Regions from separate parts of the Homo sapiens genome. Here region 2 is linked to region 1. Evidence: fine-mapped expression QTL. A gene starts in region 1. The other region holds a variant in brackets. All regions are shown on one strand. Distances are between the middles of the regions.

Region 1 (4,389 bases):
GGTCAATTTTCATAGTAATACTAAATCATTGTTTGCCTTTTTTTACTCTCATTTTCTTAAGAGTATATAGTGGAATTTTCTGAAGGCCAACTGGCATAACATCACAACAGATTTTATCCAGAAAATATTTGAGAATCCAGCTATCTTCTATTAAAAAGCAAGACATTGAAGAGGTTTGCAAAAATGTAAGATGCTGCTAATTTTTTTGTTTTGAAAAATACAGTTATTTGTCAAAACATATATGAATATATGATAACTTTATTTTTGTTATTTTTAAATGAATTGAGAAATACATTTTAAAACTCTCAATTTTAATTTCTAATATGGTAAATATAGACAGACTTAAGCCACATAAGCACAAGTTCTTTGCGGTCCTAGATAAATTCTAAGAGTGTAAAGGAGACCTAAGGACAAGACGTTTGACCAGCACTGCCCTAAAGCATTCTTATTCTCTTATCTAGTCCCACACTCTCTTTGAGGGTAGTTACCATTTGCAGCTTTTTCCAGGTAGTGTCCATGGAACGTGGCCAGGCAGAGGGTGAGGGGTGGGAACGTTGGACTTGAAGTTAGGGGGCTGGATTCCTAGTTCAGCTTTTGTCCTGGCAGCCTCACAGTCAGAGTTGGAGACTCTCTGCCTCCTCAGGGAGCTTCTTACTCACCTTTGTCAGGTCCACGGAGTACTTGGTGCTCAGCTCTTCCAAGGTTAATTTGTGATCATCCTGAGGGGACAGTAGAGGCATTGAGGGACAGGGGGTGGCCCAGGTCATTTCCAGGGAGAGGGGGAGAAACAGACTGGAGAATGTTAGTCCAAACTGAGACTGCTCCATTTTGTAAGCTCCCTGCAATTCTTTTTTTGAGATGGAGTCACTCTGTTGCCCAGGCTGGTGTACAGTGGTGCGATTTCGACTCACTGCAACCTCTGCCTCCCAACAGGTGTTTCTCCTGCCTCAGCCTCCCAAGCAGCTGGGATTACAGGGGCCCATCACCAGGACCAGCTAATTTTTGTATTTTTAGAGGCGGGGTTTCACCATGTTGGCCAGGCTTGTCTCAAACTCCTGACCTCAGGTGATCTGCCTGCCTCAGCCTCCCAAAGTGCTGGGATTACAGGTGTGAGCCACCACGCCCGGCCTAGCTCCCCACTATTTTACAGGCCTTGGTCAAAGTGAAACATTTCACGGGGGTTCGGGCCAGAGAAACAGCCTGCCTAACCACCTGACCACAGGGCAGACGAAGGCCCAATTAAAGACAAAGACCCCACTAAAGAAACATCCCTATCACATCCTGCTGGGCAAAGGTCCAGGGAATACCATGATTATATTCTGTGGAAACAAGGGCCAAAAATCACCTCATCATGAGAACATCTTATCGATATCCTGCCAGGCAGCAGGCCATACAGCCCAGACTCCTCCCATCCATCCCTATAAGTACCCAGCCTGTAAGTGGCAGTGGACTGTGGAATTAAGCTGATCCCCCACTTCCACAGGTGTCTGCAATATACCTGTGCTTGCTGTTGAGCTGCCCTGTCTCTCTGTGTGTATCTTTTTTTTTTTTTTTAACCCTCTCCTTCCCTCCAAAGCCTAACAGAGAAGAGATGTGGCTCTGGCCTGTGTGTTTCATTCTCAAGGTAAGATGTTAAAGATAGGTGGAGGAGTGTTTTCAGAGGGCAGCTGTCAGCGCCCACTTTGGGTGGCCTCACCATGACCACTTCCTTCTTCAGTTCCTCCATATTGCGCTTCTGTTTTTCCCTCTTCACCATTTTTTTCTTGATAAGCCCTTTTTTAGGTCTTCGTCTTGGACTCTGGTCATGGGGAGCCACTGTCCCTTTCTTCCCCCAAAGCCCCATAGCTATCCCCAGAAAGAGCTGCCCGAGCTCAACTGTGGGAAGAAAGCTGAGAGAGTGAGGCAAGGGGAAGGGAAGAGGGCGCGCGGGCAAGGGGGCCACGAGAAGAGAGTGGTGGGGAGAGAATGAGGGAGCAGAAAGAAAGAGGCAGGGAGGGAGGTGTTGGGTGGTGAAGGTGAGAGAGAGGAAGGGAAGTGAGAGAGGAGAGACTGAGCGGTCCTCCAGCCGTCCGCTGGGAAGAGGAAGAGTCAGGAGTGAGGGAAGAGGGAGGAGAGAAGCCTAGGGTGGAAGGATAAAAAGGTAGAGGTGAGGGAATGCAGTGAGGGCAGGAAACAAGAGGTGAAGCGTAACCAGGTGCCTCAGTGATGAAGATGCCGCAAGGCCCACAGGAAGGTGGGAAATGCAGTGAGAGTGAGGAGGCGGAGTGAGCTTCAAGGATCTGGGAACCCCCCAGTCCCAGGCCCTGTGGTTGCTGGGGCAATGACCCAGGTCTGGCATCACAAAGGCCTCCTGAAAGTTCTAACCAAGAATCCAGAAGTCTTGCCTTGGCGATGGTCCAGGTCTGCTGTCGCAAAGGCCTCATGAAGGTTTTAACCAAGAACCTAGAAGTCTCAGTCTTTGGGTTTGAGGACGATTGGAGCAGGCCCTGCTACAGAAAGAGTTTCAGTCTGAGGGCAGAACTAGAACAAAGTTCTTGTGTGGTCCTGCAGACTTTGGAGGCTTAGAGGTATGCCAAATAGATGACTCAAAAATAAAGCGGGTATTCGGCCGGGCGCGGTGGCTCATGCCTGTAATCCCAGCACTTTGGGAGGCTGAGATCGAGACCTTCGTGGCCAGTATGGTGAAACCCCATCTCTACTAAAAATACAAAATTTAGCCAGGTGTGGTGGTGGGCACCTGTAATCCCAGCTGCTCGGGAGGCTGAGGCAGGAGAAACATCTGAATCCAGAAGGCAGAGGTTGCAGTGAATTGAGATTGCATCACTGCACTCCAGCCTCGGTGACAGAGTGACTCCATCTCAGACAAACAAACAAACAAACAAACAAACAAACAAACAAACAAAAAACCATAGCAGGGAGCTTACAAAATGGTGCAGTTGCAGTTTGGACTAATATTCTCCCGTCTGTTTTTGAGACTCCATCTCAAAAAAAAAAAAAAAGCAGGTACTCTGTGTGTGTTTTTTAGCAAGGCACACTTTTCCACTAACATTGGGTTTGATCTTTTAATTTTAGGAGATCAGCTAGCAGAATAGATCAGATCTTGGGCTCTGGAACCAGTCCTGGATTTCAATCCCAACTCCTCCACTTGTCAGCTGTGTGGCTTTGAGCAAGTTACCTAACCTCTGTACCTCTCTTTTCTTATTTTTAAAAGAGGATACCTTCTACCTTAAGTGAGGTGCTCTACAAAAAGCACTATGTGACATATATAGTATGTGCTCAATAGGTAGCTTGAATTCAGTAGTAGTTTTATTTGTGGATTAATATGCAGCTCTTCTCAGTGAGGGTAAAAATATGCTTTTCCATGTGATAGCGTTGCATTTTCTCATTTTAAAATGATGTACTTACCTCTTCCATTGACCTTCTCTGGTGTCTCAGTAAGTGCTTTGACTATATTAACTGTATATATGTTTTGCATGTCCATAGGATTCTACCTCCTTCCAAGAATAATCTGAAGCATCTATACTTTTCTGTCAACCATTATATATATTTTTCAATTATGCACGTCACATAGATTTTCCCATTCTGTTGTTTGATATTTGTTTATTTACTTTTTGAGACAGGATCTCACTTTGTTGCCCAGGCTGGAGTGTAATGGTGCGATTATGGCTTACTCCAGCCTCAACCTCCCAGGTCCAAGTGATCCTCCCACCTCAGCCTCCCAAGTAGCTGGGACCACAGGCATGTGCCACCATGCCCGGCTAATTTTTTTTATTTTATTTTAGTAAAGACGGGGTGCCCCTGTGTTGCCCAGGCTGGTCTCAAACTCCTGGGCTCAAGCAATCCTTGGCCTTGGCCTCCTAAAATGTTGGGATTACATAAGTGAGACACCAAGCCTGGCCTGATATTTATTTAATTGCATTTTGGTTGGGCATGCTTTTTAAAAATATGACTGTATCTGGAAACATTCATCTTGGTGCTGATGCAATCCTCCTTGAATATTCAGAAATAGAAATGCTCCCTTCCCAGCTGGGATAAATGATCGTCTATTTCTTTAACAGATTGGATTTTTCTTCTCTATTAAAAATGTTTAAGATAAAAATTGAAAGCCCCACCTTCCCTCCCTCCAAACTCAGATTCTCCCCACTGCTGAAGTTACTGCTGGTAACAATGTGCTGCATGTCCTTCCAGTCTTTTTTCTATGTTTATACAAATAGATATCTAAAAGGAGGTATTTTTCAACTTTTAAACAATCATTCAACTCTCTACCAACCTGTCATGTACATAAAGCTTCTTTTTTTCAGTGCTGTGAGGCTTCCATATTCTGTATTGACCATGCTCTATTCAATCATTCCCATTACTGATGGATTTATGAGATATTTTCCATTTTTT
Region 2 (4,389 bases), 200 kb before region 1:
TTAGGCATTTTGAAAGGAGGGCCCATGGCTTTGGTTCCCTTGCGGCACTTACATTACTGACTTGTGACAGGAGCTCGGTACATTAGACTGACTCATCCCAGCTGTGCCAGATGGGGAATGCCAGCCGGGAGTTGAAGCTGTGAAAGAGTTCTGGGATCCACAGGGGCTCTCCAGAATGAACACCTACTCAAACTATCTGTGAAGAAAGGCCTCCTGGCCGGGTGCAGTGGCTCACGCCTATAATCCCAGCACTTTGGGAGGCCAAGAAAGGTGGATCACCTGAGGTCAGGAGTTTAAGACTAGCCTGACCAACATGGTGAAACCCATCTCTACTAAAAATAAAAAAAAATTAGCTGGGTGTGGTGACACATGCCTGTAATCCCAGCTACTCGAAAGGCTGAGGCAGGAGAACTGCTTAAACCCAAGGGACGGAGGTTGCAGTAAGCTGAGATTGTGCCATTGCACTCCAGCTTGAGCAACAAGAATGAAACTCCATCTCAAAAAAAAGGCCTCCTAAGGGAACATGCTGGCTGACCAGGGACAGATTTGCAGTAGGCTTTTGCTACAAATGTGGGGCAAATGGGAGATGGAAAGGGCTATATGACACAAGAAAGCAGAGAAAGAAGTCAAACAGATCCCTGCCACCTATGCCCCTGCCCCATCTCACCTCAAGCTCTTTGCTGGCGATGAGAAATATCCGGGCACGGATATCTTTCCAGCGGCTCTCAGTCCATGTAGAGTATTCAGTAGAGCTCCACTGACTCAGTTCAAAGGCAGGAGACAAGGCCCTGGCTAATCGTGCAGTAGAACGCACACACCGGGGGAGTCGGTCCGTCTCATTAGAATGCAAAGGGCCCTGGACCCATGAGTACTCATACAGCTGCACAGAAGATGCGCCACAACACACGGCTAGGGTGATCCTCTTCTCACTCGTTCCCTCTACCCTCTATCAGTGCCATGCTCTAACCAATTGAGCTAACTGGCTGCTGTCCCTTTACCCTTCAGATGGTCCATTTTCACCCAGGCTTTTCAACACCCAATTGCTGAGGACTGCATCTCTCCACCTCTCCATCCCAATCCCCTGGGTCTAACTAGGTCTAGAAGAACCTCCAACTTTCCCAAGGGAAAGGGGCCCCAGGGCACTTCCAACACCCACCACCACTCACATCCTTGTTTTCACTTGGGACTTTACTTGGATCCTGGCACTGCTCTCGGGTGAGGTTGACCACTGTGCCAGTCAAATTTGCCAAGGCATACTGTACAACATAAGTGGTGTTGGTGGGGCTGGAGACAGCGATGTAATGTTGAAGAGGCCCGTCACCTGAGTGCAGACCAAAGGGAAGGGAAGATTTGGTGGGTGGATGGTGGGTGAAATAGGAAAAGCCCAAGATTGGCAGCAGCCAGAAAGAAGGGCAATGGAAAAGGATCCATCAAATATGAGAAGAAAGAAAGGAAAACAGGGGGTAAGAAAAACAGAGAGGAAAAAGAAAAAAAATAATAAAGGTTAAACCAAAAGACTTTTTCTCTATCCCTTTCCTCAGCTAAGGGTCCCATTCCCACACCAGATGCTTACCCAAGTAGGACCTTAGGTCCTGCCTGAGGATAGACTGGAACCATGAGTTGTTGGCTTTAATCAGGAACCCATAGAGCAGGCGGGTAACCTAGGATTGGAACAGTAAAGAGAGAAAACCCTGTGACTTGAAGGGAGCCCAGGGAAAGAATTATCAGTGGAGACCCAGTCATGGGGCAGGAACCAGACTGGCCAGATAGACTGGAGTTGGGAGACAGTAGCTGGCTCATAAGATGCAGATGAGGCCCACCCAAGAGCTCTCTGGGGCATGAGGCATTCTCACCGGCATCAACAGTCATGTGGAATTCCAAGGTTTGGGACACTAGGGCAAGGGAGGATAGGGACAGCTTGCTGTGTAAATAGAAAGAAGGAGCTAGGGCCCATCTGCTTACCGTTTGGGGATCAGCCTGAACTGTGTCGCTGAAGTTGGTTCCTCCTGCAAGCTCATACAGAGCACGTCCCAGCACCGTGGCCACATCTGCCAGGGCCTGTGGTAGGTGAGGAGGGGGCTGAATGGCCCACCTCTCCTATCCTCAAATGCTAGCATCTTCACTGTGTGCCCCAGGCTCCCACCCAGCCTGGCTCAGTGCTACCTTGGCAGTGTCTGTTACAAAGTTCAGGTCCTCTTCAGGGCTCAGCCATTCGGGATAGCTCACATTAATGTTCTCAGCAGTGTCGTAAATACTCTGGTAATATCTGCCAGGAAAGCCGGCATGAGCCTTGGCTACATTTAGCCAGGGCTCTGCCCCTTTCCTCCCTCAAATGCTCCTTATGCAGGGACTCAGTATCTCATTTTCAGCATCAGAAGAAAGGGGTGAGAGACAATCAGGATCCCATATTGCAGAAGGTGTGGAGAACAGGGAGGTAGGAGTGAGGGTGAGGTGGTTAGTGAAAATTAAAGACTTTCCTGACAGACAAGGTAGAAAAGCTGAATGAGCTCAGATCTTTAAACAAAGGAGAGACTCTTCTACATCATTTGGGCTGGAGATATGGGGGATGGCTAAGATGATTTTCAGAGAACTCTGCCATGTATCATGAGATCAGTTGTATAACTGTTCCAATGAACATTTATATTTAGGGTAGCTGGGAGCAGGAGGTGATTAGCAGGTCTTAGGATCAGGTCTGCTCACT[G/A]ATATATAAGAATACACTGATAAAATCACCATGATGATCCTTATGGAGCCCCAAGGAGATAGATCTTAAAAGAGAGGCTGAGCTCCACAGTCTTTACCATCAGTAAATCCCTGTCCCACACAAAGTCAAGTCAGCTACATAATCAAATCCAAAATGTGTTCAAATGATGAATCTTCACTTGCCCCAAAGTGGTACAAGGATAGCTTTAGAGAAGACAGCTGACCCTAAGTGCTAGGACGGTCACTCCCCTAAATGAATGAGAAGGTGCTACTTGGCTGGGGTCAGAAATAGAGCTCAAGCATTTTCACTACGAAACTCATTTGGCCCTCGGGAAGCTTGGCAATCCAGCCTGAGTAAGAAGTCCCCTGTTATCCAAGGCCTCAAGTTAGGAGCAGTTAAAGGGTAACCCAGAGTTACCCTTTGTATCTCTGGAGCCCCATCAGCTATAGGAGGCACTTTTACCCTCGCACTGAACCATGGCCATCTACCACATGGCAAGAACATGGTACATTTCACAGAGTATGAATACTGTTTCTGGCACCTCTGGGTGAGTTCCAGAGAAGGACTGCTTTCTGTCTTCTAGCCAAAGGGCCCCCACCATCCTTCCCATGCTTGTGTTTGAGATGATGCCCTCTGCTGGCAACCCTGAGGAACTCAGGACCCTGGAGAGCTAGGGAGCAGTGGAACCATAACCAAGGATTGTTGACAGTAAAGGGCTAAGGGTGAGGATGAGTTTCTAAGATGAATATCCAGTCAAACAAATAAGGGTTTCAGTTCAGATGTGAAAACGCCACTGAGCAAAGAATACAGATGGACCTGAAGTTCTGGAGGGGGTAGTGTGGGAAAGCGGAGGGCAGTGACCTTCCTCCCAGACTGCAGAATAGACTCTCTTCAAGAATGAAGAGGGTGCAGGGCCAAGTGATTCTTACTTGTTATGGAAGGCACCAGAGTGGTCAGCCAGAACAACGCCAGAGATGTTTCGAGCTCGAAGAAATCGCTGCAGGGAAGATGGTGGGAGAGGCTGGGACTGATTTGGCCTCCTGAGGATGACAGCAGGGACACCAGCACCACTCTTCTCCAATGTGGCCAGGAGATCCTCCACCTGGGGGGTACGAGGGAGATTAACTGATGGGAGGCTGGGGGATGGGAAGCAGGAGGTCTCTTTTAGGCCTGAAATGCTCTATACTTCAAGTTCCCTGCTTGGGGAGCTACCCTATCTCTAGTAGACCTTTATCCCTCAAGCCTTTTGGGACCAAGGCTCTCTGAATTTCCTGTAGCTTCCACCATTCTTTTTAGAGTTAGAAAATTGGGGCATAAAGAAGAGACCTTTTTTTTCATATTTATAAGTAAATTCTACTGTCTTCAAGACTCTGCTTTATCCTCAGTGGATGCTTCACTTATTATTTATTGTGCAGAATTGAAGGGAGCAAATAATAATAGAAAACTGCGTGCTGAATGCCAAACAGATAACCAATTCTTTAAATGCTACAGGAGTCCAGAGCAGGGATGATGCTGAAGGCTGGAATTGCAGAAAGAGGACCACCTGGAAAAAAGCAGGCCTAAAGGTGGACCTAGAGGGAAGGGAAGGTTTTGAACAAGCAATGAGGAAAGTGGAGGACAAGTTGGGCAGCGAGTGTGACACAGCCAGGACTTGGGTAGAGCAGCCTTGACAATTGGATCCATGGGGC

Evidence for each region. PIP is the estimated chance that this variant, and not a neighbour inherited with it, causes the effect. A credible set is the group of variants that fine-mapping cannot tell apart.
Region 2: its variant is the best candidate, but not a certain one, in a credible set for the expression of ATP1A4 in lung (TOPMed, PIP 0.50).

Annotation. Positions count from the first base shown.
Region 1 is chr1:160,149,495-160,153,883 of GRCh38, reverse strand. It overlaps ATP1A4 (ATPase Na+/K+ transporting subunit alpha 4), which reads right to left and starts at 2,281. Exons shown (of 22, transcript NM_144699.4): 1 at 1,697-2,281; 2 at 660-719. The coding sequence starts at 1,843.
Region 2 is chr1:160,353,532-160,357,920 of GRCh38, reverse strand. It overlaps NCSTN (nicastrin), which reads right to left. Exons shown (of 17, transcript NM_015331.3): 11 at 3,631-3,803; 12 at 2,164-2,266; 13 at 1,963-2,058; 14 at 1,574-1,661; 15 at 1,167-1,321; 16 at 668-880. Among named protein-coding and RNA genes, the nearest start is that of NHLH1, 11 kb to the left of the region's middle. The variant G/A (reference allele first, on the strand shown) is at 2,702.